Linked DNA regions of Homo sapiens. The protein of the gene in region 1 purifies or fractionates together with the protein of each later gene. This does not show direct contact. Each region holds a gene or a part of one and is shown on either strand. Other genes may lie near its edges.

Region 1 (3,915 bases):
AGGGGGACTCATTAAAGCAACACTTTCATAAATGCCTGCTCTGAACAACATGTAAATATTGTCTTTGAAAAACACCGGCTGGCAGCTCAAGGGTGTGAGTAACCTGGAGCTTCTTCGACTGGGCCCCCCTGAGGAGGGCATGGAGCCCAAGATTCGTTACCATAATTACTTGAGAGGCTGTCAAATTCCATGACAAAACGCAAATGCAAAGCCCTGGCCCCAGCAGCAGGCAGCTGAAAGGGACCTTGACCCTGTTGAGTACTCCAGTATAGAAGCTGCTGGATTCTAACCAGGGCTCTCCCATGCCCGGCTCTATAAACTTTCTCTATATTTTGCATTGTTTCCCTAAGGGTAGGAGATTCCCGTAAGTTGGGTCAAAGGGCAGGGAGGTTTCCGTGGTTCTCATTGGGCCCTGCTGCTGCTCTCCAGACAGATGATGGATCAGCTGTCAGGGTGGCCCCGGCCATGCCAGCGCAGTAGGTGGTCAGGGCGCACTTGGGGCAGCCGGCAGGGCAGAAGGGACGGGAGCTTGACCCGTGTTCTCATGGGCAGAGGGAGCCCGGGCAGTGTTGGGGGCAGCGTGCGGGCAGGCGCGGAGGGGAGATAGCCAGGCAGTCAGGGAGAATTGGGGTGACTGGAGAAAGGCCGAAGGGCCGCGTCTGCCTGCGGCCGGAGACCACCCCAGGTCCATACAGCCAGCTGGGTGCCGGGCACCATTTGGAGCCGCTGGGAAAGCCAAGCACCGCTCTTTCTGGAGCCTTCTTTTTTCCTATTGTTAGGGAATTCACGACGTCACACTTGTTTTCAAGTGAAAATAAGAGTTGTGTAGGACGCGAAAGTCACGTGACTTGAAAGCTGAACCTGAGAGGCCTCAAAATAAATTCTGGTTTGCTGTGAAAGCCTCGGGTTATAGCGCTAAACTCCCCCCTCCACTGCCCCCGAAAGTTGTATTCTCCTCTGCTTTTAGGGTGGGGTGTGGCGTAAACAACACAGCTTGAGCAGCTCTGAGGAGGAGGGTGTTAGAGACCAGGCAGGCGGAGCAGGCAAGAGTTTTCAAGGATGTCGAAATAGTTTGAGACGCCCCGTCCCATTATAAAAGTGATAACGAGAGACAGCAGGAACGCGCTTCTGGACAGAAAACAGACCCTAAGGAAAGGCAGCCAGAGGCTCACGCTGGATCCTGCGGTCTTCCCTATCTGCGCCTCTGTACCTCCCTTGCCTTTACAAAGCGCATGGATCAACTTTGGAACAGGTTCTAATTCTGCCCCAGATCCATCTGCGTCTTCCCACGACTCACAAATCTGACCTCAGGGTGCAAGCGCAGCCCCAGCCCTCTAAGCCTGGGTAGGCAGGGCTCTCCCACCCGAGAAAGGGCCGAGGGGAGACTTCCGGGGCGGGACCGACGTGGGCCCCTCCCACTCGGCGGCCGGTGGGTTCAGCCTGAACGCACTGCGGAGGTGGGGCCGACGAGGGATCCAGGGGCGGGACAGGTTCGGGGCGGGACAGGTTCAGGCCCCTCCCATGCGGCGGCCAGCGCGAGCGGTAGAGGCGGGTCTGGAGGCGGGGCCTGCGTGGAGCCAGACGGCGCAGCTGCTGCCGGGGGCGGGGCCGGCGGGCTGTGGCCCCGCCCTTAGCCGCCATTGCCGGGCCTGCCTGGCCACCCTGCGCAGCGGCCTTGCGTCCTCTCCCGGGGCGGAGCGGGTCGGCGGGCCTGACAGGGAACCTCCCTGACCGAGCCCACGTCTCCCCACGGCCAGAGAAATCTCCGGCCCGGCCCGCATCGCCAGCCCCCAGGCCCGGAGGAACGGCCCGAGCCCAGGAGAACCACATCTTCGTCCCAGCCCCGGAGGCTCCTGTGGGCAAGATCGTGAGCCAACGGGTTCCTGAGGCCCCTCCTGGCCAGGCAGGGTTTCCCCGCGCGTTTCCGAGGAGCCCTGCCTGGCCGGGCGGCTGGACAAACAGGTCGTAGCACCGATCGCGCCCGCCCCCAGCAGGGGTCCCGCACAGGCTTGCCCCTGACCCCCACCCAAACCTGTCCTTCCGCTTTGCCCCCAAACAGTGCACTTGCCGGCGGTCCCAACCCAGCAGGAGAAGTGGACATGAGGTTGGCAGGTGGGTGGCTTCCACAGCGAACGGGAGGGAGTTGAAAAGGGCACCTGGCTGGAGGCCCAGCGTCGCGACATCTGTGTCTGGAGAGGCCCGGGTGAACCACTGGGTTTGGTTTTGGAAATGGAGGACTCTGCACAAACACTCGTTCCTTGACCTTAACCAAATCCTTTCACCTCTGAGGACGTCAGCTCCCCGAGCTATGACATGAGGATTAGTATAGTCAGTATCTCCCAACGCAGGTAGCAGACCAGCTGCTTTTTGGAAAATGAGTGGTGAGAGAGAGGAGGTGGGCAGTCCAGGTGGAGAGGCGTGGTCTTAGAGGGGAAGTGACAAAAGTGGCTGTGGGCTTCGACATGAACCCGATGACAGCCCTACTGTCACCTGGACAAGTAAGATGAAGATCCTTGGGGAGGGATAGGTTGGGGCTGGGTGGAGAGTAGAAACAACTCGGGAATTGGACTTCAGACTTGCTAAGGTGGTAACTTTGTGGACATATCCAGGTGGAGCTGGCCACTGAGGAACCAGCTGGCAGGGAGTGGTTTCAAGAGAGGCCACGGCTGGAACTAGAAAATAGAAAGTCATTGACACATGGTGCTTAATTAAAGAGCTAGGAGTAGATGACATCATCTAAAAACACACTACAGGCCGGGCGCGGTGGCTCACGCCTGTAATCCTAGCACTTTGGGAGGCCGAGGTGGGAGGATCACTTGAAGTCAGGAGTTCGAGACCAGCCTGGCCAACATGGTGAATCCTCATCTCTACTAAAAAAATACAAAAAAATGAGCCTGGCGTGGTGGCGGGTGCCTGTAATCCCAGCTACCCGGGAGGCTGAGGTTGCAGTGAGCCGAGATTGCGCCACCGCATAACTCCAGCCTGGGCGACAGAGCGAGACTCCGTCTCAAAAAAGTAAAGACAGCTGGGCGCAGTGGCTCACGCCTGTAATCTCAACACTTTGGGAGGCCAAGGCGGGTGGATCACCTGAGGTCAAGAGTTCGAGACCAGTCTGGCCAAGATGGTGAAACCCCGTCTCTACTAAAAATACAAAAATTAGCCAGGCATGGCCGGGTGCGGTGGCTCACACCTGTAATCCCAGCACTTTGGGAGGCCGAGGCGGGCGGATCACGAGGTCTGGAGATCAAGACCATCCTGGCTAACATGGTGAAACCCCGTCTTTACTAAAAATACAAAAAAATTAGCCGGGCGTGGTGGCGGGCGCCTGTAGTCCCAGCTACCAGGGAGGCTGAGGCAGGAGAATGGCGTGTAACCGGGAGGCGGAGCTTGCAGTGAGCCAAGATCACGCCACTGCACTTCAGTCTGGGCAACAGAGCAAGACTCTGTCTCAAAAAAAAAAATTAGCCAGGCACGGTGGTGCGCGCCTGTAATCCCAGCTACTTGGGAGGCTGAGGCAGGAGAATCGCTTGAACCCAGGAGGCGGAGGTTGCAGTGAGCCGACATCGCGCCATTGCACTCCAGCCTGGGGGGCAAGAGCAAGACTCCGTCTCAAAAATAAAAAAAATAAAAAGACACTACAGGTAGGGACCAGAAGGCAGCCTGAGATGGGAGCCTGGGAAAGTCCAGCTTTTAAGGGGAGGGTAGAGGAGACGATCTAACTAAGGAGAATGAGGAGTGTCCAGAGAGATTGGGTCAGGAGAGTGTGCTGTCCGGAAAGCCAGCAGAGAAGTTAGTGCTTCTGTCAGGTGGACATGGGCAGCCCACTGAGAGGTCAAGGAAGATCAAGGCTGACAGGTCACCAGGGGTGGTGACACCACAAAGGTCATCAGTGGCCTTGGCAACAAGCTGATTTGG
Region 2 (3,815 bases), about 22 Mb from region 1:
ATAAAGAGAAAATACTGCAGCTGCAGACTGTCTGGGAACTTCAAAGATCTTTGGGGCAAAGACCTAAAGATTAAGATCCTGCCAAGAACTCTGGTCACTGAAACATCCCGCAATCCCAGGGATTTACAAGAATAAATCCAACCTGTTTCAAAGACACATAGATATAATTTTGGATATATGAGATTGGTGGGGGGGGGTGGGTGCTCCTTGATTTAGAGTTCCTAACTTACATAACCGAAACAGATCTACCCCAGTAGTTATTCTTTTGATTTGCCCATCTCTAGACTACTTGTCAGCCCTCATCACTTTCATCTTGTCTTTGAATTGTAATCTCAAACCTTATGTCCTACAATTTCCAAGGCTATGGATCCAGGCTTCCTCTACCTCACCTGAGTAGCTATCCTTTTCTATGGATAAGCTGCTTTCCTCTCTCTAGTGCCTCACAACCAAGCCTCATTAAAGGCCTGTGAAAACAATTACAGGTGAGTTTCTGTTGGGAAAAGTTAATGAGTGCTAGCTCTCCTTCTGTCTGGTTGGCTGTCCATCTCCATCTGTCAAGAAAACCCTTTCCCACAGGTTCCATAAATGTCTCCAGCACTACAAAAGTGAAAAAACAATTTGCAGTATTATGCACATTCTATTCAGGTGGGAAAATTGCAACTAACCCAACTCTTCAGCATTTTCAGTGTTTCTGATTGAATGATTTGATGCTGAAATGGTATCCAGTGTACTTAAACCAAAATGGCAATCAGACCCACTCCAATCTGAGTTTTGCTGTTTGGTCAAAGCTAATTGTGGGAGAAGAACCCTGTGGCTTAAAACACACCTGACTCACTTTTTTGATGGGTGGCATATAGAAACTTCTGCATCTCCTTTGTAAGCTCTTTTCGGAATTAATTCATCTCAGATCCCTGAAAAATAGTTGTGCTGATACAACTACAATAGTACTGAAATTTTAAGAATTAATTTTCAGGGTCCCAGGAAATTGAAATTGTATTTCAAGAGAACAGGTTTGGCTATGATATTTATTGTCTACATATCTTTTACTAGGCACTTAGCATGTGGTGCTCGTAGTGTTGCTTATATTTTATTATTTATCTGTCTCTCCAACTCACTTTTAAATGGGCAGTCAAGAGGTATTCATTGAACAAATAAATGAAAAAGCTGCATTTGGGCTCAATGGAAAGAAGTGTCATGATTGAGTATTAATGTCTTGCACCAGTTTGAGAGAAGGAAGTGGTGACACATGTCACATATCTTCCATCCCTGAAGAGGAATGGTCTGGGAGAATTGGACTCCAGTCACTGAAGGTTGGTCATCATGTGCATCACAAAAAACGTGAGCTTAGAAAGGATTCTCAAGCAAGCTTGCTTGGATGGTTGCAGAGTGCCTCTGAAATAACACATCTGTTGCATTTGTATAGTCCTTAATGTTTTCCAATGTGTGTTCTTGTAAGTGATAACTGAGATGAAACCCACTTTATTGTTGAGGGTTTGTTTCAAGTCTCTCTGAGGGAAATACTGGCTATTCTTTACTCCCTAGAGATGCCTCTAGGCTCCTGAACACTCCCTGACTGAAAAAATGCACTTAAAACAGACTCTCCCAGGGATAAAAGCTCATCTAGTCGGCCTCCCCAACAGGTGCTTCAGGCCCCTCTCCAACAGATACACCAAGTCGTCATCTTTTGAAAGGTTTTTCAATCGTGGTTGTTTCCCCATGAAAACTTGCTTTTCTCTTTTCTAAGAGACTCACATTTCTGAAGTATGTTTGCCCTTGTTCTATTGTTGAGCAAGACACCTCTTCAAATATTGATTTCCTTTAATTAAAGCTGATAATACTTTCGCATTTCATTTTTTTCTATCTTGTTAGGTTATGTCCTGAGTGGTTTTCTTTGTTCCAAACTTTTTCACTTCTTTTGCCCGAGGTGTCTAAATTAGAGTCCTTGCCCCTTTAAGTATCTTACGCTCATTATCTATATTTCTGATAATCACCTGGCAAAGATAGTTCAGTTCATTGAGATGTGCTTTTATTTAGCATCCTCTTCTAGTTTCCCTTTGCCTAACTATGGATAATAACAGGATTTCTGAGGGAAGGGAAAAGCTCATTTTTATTGCTATGAAGCCCAGTGTAACTATGATCTCTCAGAAGCAGCCTCATAAGTTCAAAGCATTTATTCAGGAATCCCAGGTTCTAATCCTGGCTGCCAGCAAGGCATTTAACTTCTTGCTGTCTTAGTCTTCTTATCTACAAAGGAGAGGGAATTATACTGATCAGGTAAACCATTCACAATGAAGCTCACAGTTACTCTGGAATTGAAAAGCTCTTGGAAAAGGCAACCAGGGCGCTCACATTATCTTGCCCTCTCCCATTCCATTAACTTTTCACTCTAGCAGCTCACCACAGGGCATCAGGGACTGCAGCAATGGGCTCATTTATTTTTGTTGCTATTTTGCTCTCTTCACCTCTTGGTACATGTTGTTTTTGCCCAGAGAGTGACAGTCACGTCCCTGAATGCCTCATTGGGATCAAGAAAGAACATGAGTCAGTTTCTAAATTATATTATTTTCTCATTTAAGCTGACTAATCCCATGTGTCTTTACCAACAGTATGGACCGTAGTTACAAACTATCAGAGGCCAATAGAACGGTATCTAACAATTGTAAGTGGTATTATAAAACTGTTGCGTTCGCATCTAACTCTGGGCTTCTCCATCACATCAGGGATTGAGGAGCAGAAACCATAGTTATGGAATTGGATGGTTTGGGGTAATTGAGATCTGAAATATAATGAGAGGCTGGGCTGGAATGGCAGTTATAGGGGTGGAAAATAACTATGCCTGGCATGGCAAAAGAAAATATGACAGAACTTGGGGATTGACTATGTTTGGGGAATGAGAATAAACCCTAAATGAAAGTCACTGAGAAGGTTTGCAAGTTGGATGACTGAGAACAAATTTACTCTGCCAGTGAAAGAGAGAGTAGTTGGGAGGGAGATCTGGACTAGAGGAGAAGATGACGGATTCAGTTTGGGGCCTATCGAGTTGGGGTATTGATGGACAGTGTCCCAGTAGGCAATTAGAGAAATGGAACTGGAGCTCAAGAAGAAAGACAAGGCAGATGTGCGGTCATTGCTCCAAAGTGGGACTCAAAGCCATGAGATAAACAGTGAGGCCTGATGAGACAGTGATCCACTATGATTAAGGAGTGTTTCAAGAAGCATCCTATGCCAGAATCTGTTTACTCCCACCCCACTCTATGAGGATTTACAACTGCGTTACAAAGACTTGTATGCCAGAGGTCCAAGTAAAAGCATCTAAATCAGGTAACTTAGTTATGTAGAGATTAATGCTAAGGTTAATGAGGGAAAGTGAAGGCCTCGTTCCTGGTGCAGGCCAGTGGCTTTCTTCATCCCATGCCCATAGTCTGCTTCTCCCCATTCTCCCAGCCCACCCAGATTGCTTACAGATGACAAGGCAAGCTGGGTACCAAGAGATTGGTGGCAATCATTGGCAGCCCATTCCTATAACAAATACCTCACAGAGTACATCCTATGCTGTTTTCACCTTGGTGTAAGAAGGACACTCTGGCAAATGAGCAAAATTGAGCTTTCTACCTTGGCTTCACTTGCAGTTCACATCTTTTCTCTTTACCACGGCCTAACCGAGTACTAGAATTTATACCTCCAATAGTACTAAAATCTCCTTTTTTTTTTTTACATGATTCCCTTCCCTCTTGATTCTCAGTCTCTGCACGTGTCTCACTAACTGGCAACCTCAGCTACCCTCTCTTAGCATCCTTGGTTTTGGGGCAGAAAGC

Evidence for each region.
Region 2: the proteins of FAM3A (region 1) and HS6ST2 purify together in Homo sapiens (affinity purification with mass spectrometry; one large-scale study listed by BioGRID and IntAct). This does not show direct contact.

Annotation. Positions count from the first base shown.
Region 1 is NC_000023.11:154,513,957-154,517,871, reverse strand, and holds the start of FAM3A (protein FAM3A isoform 1 precursor), read left to right. Parts: upstream 1-1,639; 5' UTR 1,640-2,099; coding exon 2,100-2,112; intron 2,113-2,156; exon of another isoform or gene 2,157-2,392; intron 2,393-3,915. UniProt on the Homo sapiens protein: May act as a defensin against invading fungal microorganisms.
Region 2 is NC_000023.11:132,672,119-132,675,933, forward strand, and holds part of HS6ST2 (heparan-sulfate 6-O-sulfotransferase 2), read right to left. Parts: intron 1-3,815. UniProt on the Homo sapiens protein: 6-O-sulfation enzyme which catalyzes the transfer of sulfate from 3'-phosphoadenosine 5'-phosphosulfate (PAPS) to position 6 of the N-sulfoglucosamine residue (GlcNS) of heparan sulfate.